Homo sapiens: one gene and its partner. The protein of the gene in region 2 purifies or fractionates together with the protein of the main gene of each other region. This does not show direct contact. Each region holds a gene or a part of one and is shown on either strand. Other genes may lie near its edges.

The links.
Region 1: the proteins of TEAD4 (region 2) and GNB1L purify together in Homo sapiens (affinity purification with mass spectrometry, with the first as the bait; one large-scale study listed by BioGRID). This does not show direct contact.

The regions. Positions count from the first base shown.
Region 1 is NC_000022.11:19,844,875-19,848,374, forward strand, and holds part of GNB1L (guanine nucleotide-binding protein subunit beta-like protein 1), read right to left. Parts: exon of another isoform or gene 1,272-3,500; intron 1-1,271. UniProt on the Homo sapiens protein: Acts as a critical regulator of DNA damage response (DDR) signaling via specifically regulating phosphatidylinositol 3-kinase-related protein kinase (PIKK) family proteins.
Region 2 is NC_000012.12:2,993,897-2,997,396, reverse strand, and holds part of TEAD4 (transcriptional enhancer factor TEF-3), read right to left. Parts: intron 2,660-3,500; 5' UTR 2,631-2,659; coding exon 2,405-2,630; intron 1-2,404. UniProt on the Homo sapiens protein: Transcription factor which plays a key role in the Hippo signaling pathway, a pathway involved in organ size control and tumor suppression by restricting proliferation and promoting apoptosis.

The sequences.
Region 1 (3,500 bases), on a different chromosome or scaffold from region 2:
GTTCAGCCTCTGCTCAGAGGCCTGGTTCATGTAGGCCAGCTGCCGATCCCATCAGGGAGAGACAACACTCACAGAGGGTGCAGGATGGGGACCAATCCCCTGGGGCTGGTGCCCCTGGCCTCGGGGATGGGGATGTGCCCTGGAAACTTGGTCGGAGCTGGAGGAGGGGTCCCTAAGCAAGCTGGGGCTGACACTTTCTGACAGGGACTTGCCTGTGTGGCTCCTCCTGTGGCGGAGGCAACCTTGGGTGGAAAGGGGAGGTCCCCTATCACACACAGGTGGTGGTGTGGCCAGGTGTATGTCTCATCAACTCCCGACCACCCAGCTGCATGCAGTCAGCTGTGCACATGCTTACATATGCATGCCAGCAATGTGCTTGCCCACATCCACAGACATGCGAATGAGGACAGAGGCCAGCCTCCCACTCGCTCTGCCCTGTGGGTGCTGCAGGTGGACCCCTCACTGAGGGCCCCCCCTATGCACAGCCTGTGAATAAAGAGCCCTGGCTCCACAACCCACAAACACTCCCCAGTCCCCTGCAGTGCTCAGACACAGAGGTGAGGTGGGCAGCGCAGGCACAGCAGGGGGCAGGGGAGTCAGATGTCCTGTGCACCCAGCTGGCAGCCCCACCAATGGGGACACAGAAGAATGTGGCAAGTGCATGAGCACCCATCATCCACAGGCCCCAGCCCTGTGCTGGGGGTGGTTCCTGAGGCCAGGAGGAAAGGAGCCGGCCAATGAGAACACCCCACAGGCCTGGGCTCTTCCTTGGCCAGCCCCTACCCACCGTGTCCCTGTAATAGAGATGATGTAGCCCAAAGAAAAACTAAGGGAGCAACGGGCCCTGCTGTCCTGGAGAGCAGGCTTGGCCAGGCTGTCCAGCGACAAGGCACCCCCGAGGCCTGCACCAGGAGAGTGTGAACACTGCTGGGGCTGGGCAAGGGCCATGACACCATCCTCGCTGCCTCTGCATTTGTGATCCAATGTGTTTTAAAACTTGCAAAGACAACTTGAAAAATGGGGACATGGATGGTTTCCCTATGACATAAGCAAGACTTAAAAGCTAGAATAACTAGTAAGGGACAGATCAGACCAGAGAGCAGGCGGGTAGGCCAGGCATGGCTCACGGGTGGCTGCAGCCAGACTGTGAGTTGCTGCAGCCAGCAGCTGATGCTGAGGTAGGCCCTATGGAAAAAGGTGAAATGGGATCCCCTGTTGGTCAGGACATAATAGGTTATGCTGTGGAAAACACAAGCCCCAAACTCAGTGGCTTCGCACATCAAAAATTTATTTCTTGCTCATATTACATGTGCATCGCGGTCGGCAGAGGGGCTCTGCTCATCACAGGCTATCAAGGATGACAGCAGACCCCTCCCTTCTGCCGCAGTTACACTTACAGGTGGACTCAAGGTTGAATGTCAAAGGCAGAAAGTTACAACCTGGGAATACAGGATAATGCCTTTGTACCCCCCAGGTAGGGAAAGATTTCTTAAGTGAGAAACAGCATCCCATACAGCACAACTGGGCACTGCCTACTCAACAGCCAAGGCTTGGCCATCCCCACTCCTCAGTATGGGCCCCAGAACCCAGGGCCTGGGGGACTCTGCACACAGGCATGTGGAGACCACAGAAGCCTGCCCAATATAGCGCTGCCAGGAACAGCAAAGACAAAACCAGAGAAGCCTATCGCGGGCACCGCTGTGGGCAGAACTATGTCCCTTCAATATTTTTATGTTCAAGTCCTAACCCCTAGTACTTACATTTGAAGACAGGGTCTTTAAAGAGGTAATTCAGGGTTAAATGAGGTCATGAGGGTGGGCCCTGATCCAATAGACTAGTGAGCTTATGAGAGATTAGGACACAGACACAGACAGGGACACGGCAAGAAGATGGCTATCTGCAGGCCAAGGAGCGAGGCCTCAGGAGAAACCAACCCTGCCCACACCTTGATCTCAGGCTTCTAGCTCCAGAATCATGAGGAAATGTCTGTTGTTTAAGTCCCCTAGCCTGCGGTCCTTTGTCAGGCAGCCCCAGCAGACAAACAGGTATGTTGCCCTGGGATGGATGCAGGCCCCTCCCATCCTCCCATCCTCAGCAGCACCAACCAGCCCCACGCTGGGTGGCTGCTTGTACTTCTCCATACTGAGCACCCCAGCCCATAGGATGATCAGCTGCTGCCGTCCTATGGAACTCAGGTGTGGCTCTGTGGCTTCCTTTGGCCACAGAAATGGAAGTGGGGTGACACACATTACTTGTGGCCTGCTGTGGCCTTTCCCCTGCCTCAGTGAGCATGGAGAAATATGTCCAGGTAGGCTGTCGTCAGCACAGGTCTGACAGGCCCCAGCCACGGTGGCCCACAGGTGCAAGCAAGAAATAAGCAGTGCCAACTGTAGCCGCTGCGCTGTTGGAGATCTTTGTTACTGCAGCACAATCTGGCTCATGCTGACTGATCCTGCAGGGTAACAGCTTTATTTGCCTTGCTCCTTTATTGCTGGATCTTTGGGCTTTTCCAGTTCTGCTGTTCAAAAAACAGTGACACCCATGAGGTGGGTGTTAGAGGGCCCAGACCCCAGCCAAGGCACTGCATGGGCATCATTCTCATTCAACCCTTCTAACCACCCCATGAGGAAAAACTCTGGTCACAGCTCAAAAAGGTCAGGTAAGGACCCTCAGCTCATGCGGGGAGGGGAGGAGGCAAGGCCAACCTCCAGTCCCTGCTCTAAACCCCCATGTAGTGGTACCGAACCATGACCACCCCTGGCAAGAGCCTTCATGCACCTAGCAAGTAGTCACAGCATGCATGTGCCTAGAATTGTTACGTGGTCAAATTATATTATTGTGTATTCCCACCAACAGTATGAGAAGGTCCACTTCTCCATACCTCCACAACTCTGGGCATCTAAAACTTTTAAAATCCTGGAATCATAGGCAAAAAAAAAAAAAAAAAAAAATTCACCCATATTTTCCTCTAGTACTTTCATAATTGTAACATTGAAATCTTTAATCTGGAATATGTACTGGCATAAAGAGTGAGGCACATACATGGCTTTACTATTTTCCAGAGGGCCAACTGCTTTTACTGAATAATCCATTTTACTCGTTAATTGGAAACACCTCTAGCCTGTACTAAATTTCCATATTTATTTGGCCCGTTTCAAAGTCCTCTATTCTCTGCTCATCTGTCCACATCTAAGTGCTTTAACTATTGTGGCTTTATAAAATATTCCAATATCCCATAGGACCTTATCCTTAGTACTTCCTATTTTAAAGTTTTCCTTGCAGACAGGTACTTTAAATACCATCTCACAGCACCCATCATGTCCTATCTTCAGGAAATAAAATCTCTGGGTATTTCCAAGGGAAGTGAAGGACTGACACCATGATTAGAAAGCAGAGCCAGCACCATGGCCCGTCCCTGAGCATGTCCAGCAAACCCTGCCAGGCTCTGCAGCTCCTGAGCACCCTGCCTTCGGGTCTGCCAGTGTGTGGGGGCCAGAAGA
Region 2 (3,500 bases):
CCCCAGGTGCTCCACACACAGCTGTCTCCCCCATGACGCTTCCCCAGGCGCTAAAAGTAAGAAGCAGAACTTCACAAGTAGAGGTGGAAGGGACTTCACAGGAGTTCTGGCCAGTAAATATTTCAGGGGTTAGTTTCCCAGTGTCTTCCTTAAATGTATCCAGGTCACTCTTCTTCATCCCATTCTCCTGTCTGCTAGCTGCAATGTAACTCCTGGAGCTGAAGCAGCTGCTTGGGCCTTAAGGGAACATTCACAATGGAAGGCATGCTCATGAGCCACAAGACGGAAGCATCCTGGGTCCCTGAGAGCTTCATGGAGCAGAGCTGCCACACCTTCCCTGGACTACCTACCCTCCAGACATTTATAGGAGAGAGAAGGAAATTTCCCTTATGTAAGCCACTGTTATTTGGGATCTGTTAAAGACAAATTTTATCTTAACTGCCACAAACACATTCAAGTATTTTATTTAGAAATACAGATGCAAGGCCGGGCATGGTGGCTCACACCTGTAAAATCAGCCGAGCGTGGTGGCGCACGCCTGTAGACCCAACTACTCGGGAGGGTGAAGCAGAAGAATCACTTTAACCCACGGGGCGGAGGCTGCAGTGAGCCGAGATTGCTCCACTGCACTCCAGCCTGGGCGACAGAGCAAGACTCTGTCTCAAAAACAAAAGAAAAGAAAAGAAAAGCTGGGTGCGGTGGCTCACACCTGTAATCCCATCACTTTGGGAGGCCAAGGTGGGCGGATCACCTGAGGTCTGGAGTTCAAGACCAGCCTGACCAACATGGAAAAACCCTGTCTCTACTAAAAATACAAAATTAGCCAGGAGTGGTGGCACGTGCCTGTAATCCAAGCTTACTCGGCAGGCTGAGGTGGGAGAATCGCTTGAACCCGGGAGGCAGAGGTAGCGTTGAGCTGAGATTGCGCCCATTGCACTCTAGCCTGGGCAACAAGAGTGAAACTCCATCTCAAAAAAAAAAAAAGAGAGAGAGAGAAAAGAAAAAGGAAAAAATAAGCAACCATCAGAGCAAGAAGTGGTCAAAGCAGGGAGAGTCTAGAGGGCCGACCCAGAAGTAAGGGCGACCCTGGGGAAGCCGAGCCAAGCAACAATGGTGGGGGTGGCACCAGCGTTGGGTGTGGGGGAGAAATGAATGGAAACCCGTGGGGGTGGGCAGCTGGTCTGGGGCCATCCTGTTGGAAGCCAGGCAGGGGCCCCGTTGTCACTGACTTCAGCCATTTAGAGACCCACTCAGGGCTCTCACTCCTGCCCCAAGACCACTGTTTTGAGCTAGGATTCCTAGAGGACTTTCCAACAGGAACAGAAGCCTTATCTGGGCCTTCCAACAGCCATTCAGTTTTTATTCTTGCTTCATTTTTTTTTTTTTTTTGAAACAGGGCCTCACTCTGGCACCCAGGCAGGAGTGCAACAGTGCACTCATGGCTCAATGCAGCCTTGACCTCTTGGCCTCAAGAGATCTTTCTGCCTCAGCCTCCCCAGTAGCTGGGACTGCAGGCTGGCACCACCAAACCTGGGTAATTTTTTTTATTTTTACTCCAGATGGTGTCTCGCTTTGTTGCCCAGGCTGGTTTCAAACTGCTGGCCTCAAGTGATCCTCCCACCTTGGCCTCCCAAAGTGCTGGAATCACAGGCTTGAGTGAGCCACCATGCCCAGCCCCTGCTTCATTTTTCCAGATGCCCCCTCTTCCATCCAAAAGTCATCGTGGCCCCATGCCAACTGCTTGGTCCTTCCCATGCATCGCTGAACAGTTTCAGCTGTGTTCTGCAACCCCAGCCACTCACAAAGATCAAGCCGTTTCTGGTGACCCTCTGCTGGGTTGGGGGGGGCCTTTCCTAGGGGAGTGGTCTCCAGCACTCTGCCTCTCCTAGGAACTCTCCAGGCTGCCTTGCAGAGCAGGTATCTGTGAGCTCACATTACCCTCACCCCAGATGACAGGCTGGGACTAGACCCGTCTAACCCACACCAGGCACACAGAAGGCTCGGCATCTGTTTGTTGCATGAATGAGTGAGGGAAAGAGGGGATGAGTGAGCATCCTTCACAGCCAAGGTGGGCAGCCTGCTGGTCAGGCACCTGCTGGGGTACAGCTTGTGGGGTGCTCCCCACCTGCTCTGGGGGGATGTTCTACCCCACCCAGATTCGCCTTTTCCAAGATTCCCACTCCCATCTCTGCTCACCGCCAGGGGCCCCACCCTCCACACCCCCTCACAGGCTTCTCCTCAGATGCCCCCATCCCTTGGGAGCCCAGGAGGGAAGAAAGCAGTGTCCACCCGACAAAGCCCCAAGTGGTCATCCCCTTCTGTGGCCCGGCAGGAACCCCAAGGTTCTGGTGTCGGCCCCTTGCCTCAGCCTCAGGTACAGGGCTGAACCCGACGGGCTCCTTACCATACATCTTGCCCTCGTCCGACAGGATGATTTTGCGCCTGCCACAGGGCGGGTAGATGGCGAGGGCCTCCTGGAAACTCTGCTCAATATCCGGGCTCCACACGCCCTCTGCGTCATTGTCGATGGGCTTGTCCAGTGCCTGACTGCCCCCAGAGGCGGTGCTCCCCTCAGGGGAGGTGGGAGAGCTCCACTCGTTGGAGGTAATGGTGCCGGCCGTGCCCTCCAAGGCTCCGCTTGGAGGAGCGCTCGTTGGACCTGTGGGGACAGGAACCACAGCCCCGGTGAGCAGTGGAAGAACTGCGTGGGCCACGGGATGAAGGCACTCCGGGGAGTGCCAGAGCCCGAATCAGTTGCTCAGGAAGCAAAGCGTGAAGTGAAAGATCTGTGAGAATCAGGCCTGGGGTCTTGAACAGGTCCCATCCCCTCTGGAGAGCTCATCTTCCCATCTGTCGAATGAGCACAATGACCTAGGCACTCCCTGGTATCAAGGAACCCAGACAAGGGCTGAAAAGTAGGAGACAAGGATGCAGTGCCGGGGATGCACTGACATTAAATCGACCCTGGGCAAAAAGCATGCAAAATCCTGGGTACTGTTGGTGGGAATGCAAAATGGTACAGGCCGGGCGCTGTGGCTCACGCCTGTAATCCCAGCACTCTGGGAGGCTGAGGCAGGCAGATCACTTGAGGTCAGGAACTCGAGACCAGCCTGGCCAACATGGTGAAACCCCGTTTCTACTAAAAATACAAAAATTAGCCAGGTGTGGTGGCGGGCACCTGTAATCACAGCTACTCGGGAGGCTCAGACAAGGAGAATCGCTTGAATCCGAGAAGCAGAGGTTGCAGTGAGCCGAGATCCCGCCACTACACTCCAGCCTGGGTGACAGAGCAAGACCATATGACCCAATACCTGGGTATATACCCAAACAAACTGAAAGCAGGGTCTCAAAGATATATATGTACACTCATGCTCGCGGCAGCATTATTCACAAGAGTCAAAAGGTAGAAGCAAACCAAGTGTCCATCAATGGATGAATGCATGAACAAAATGTGGTGTATACCTACAGCGAAATAGGAGCTTTAAAAAGGAAGGCAACCG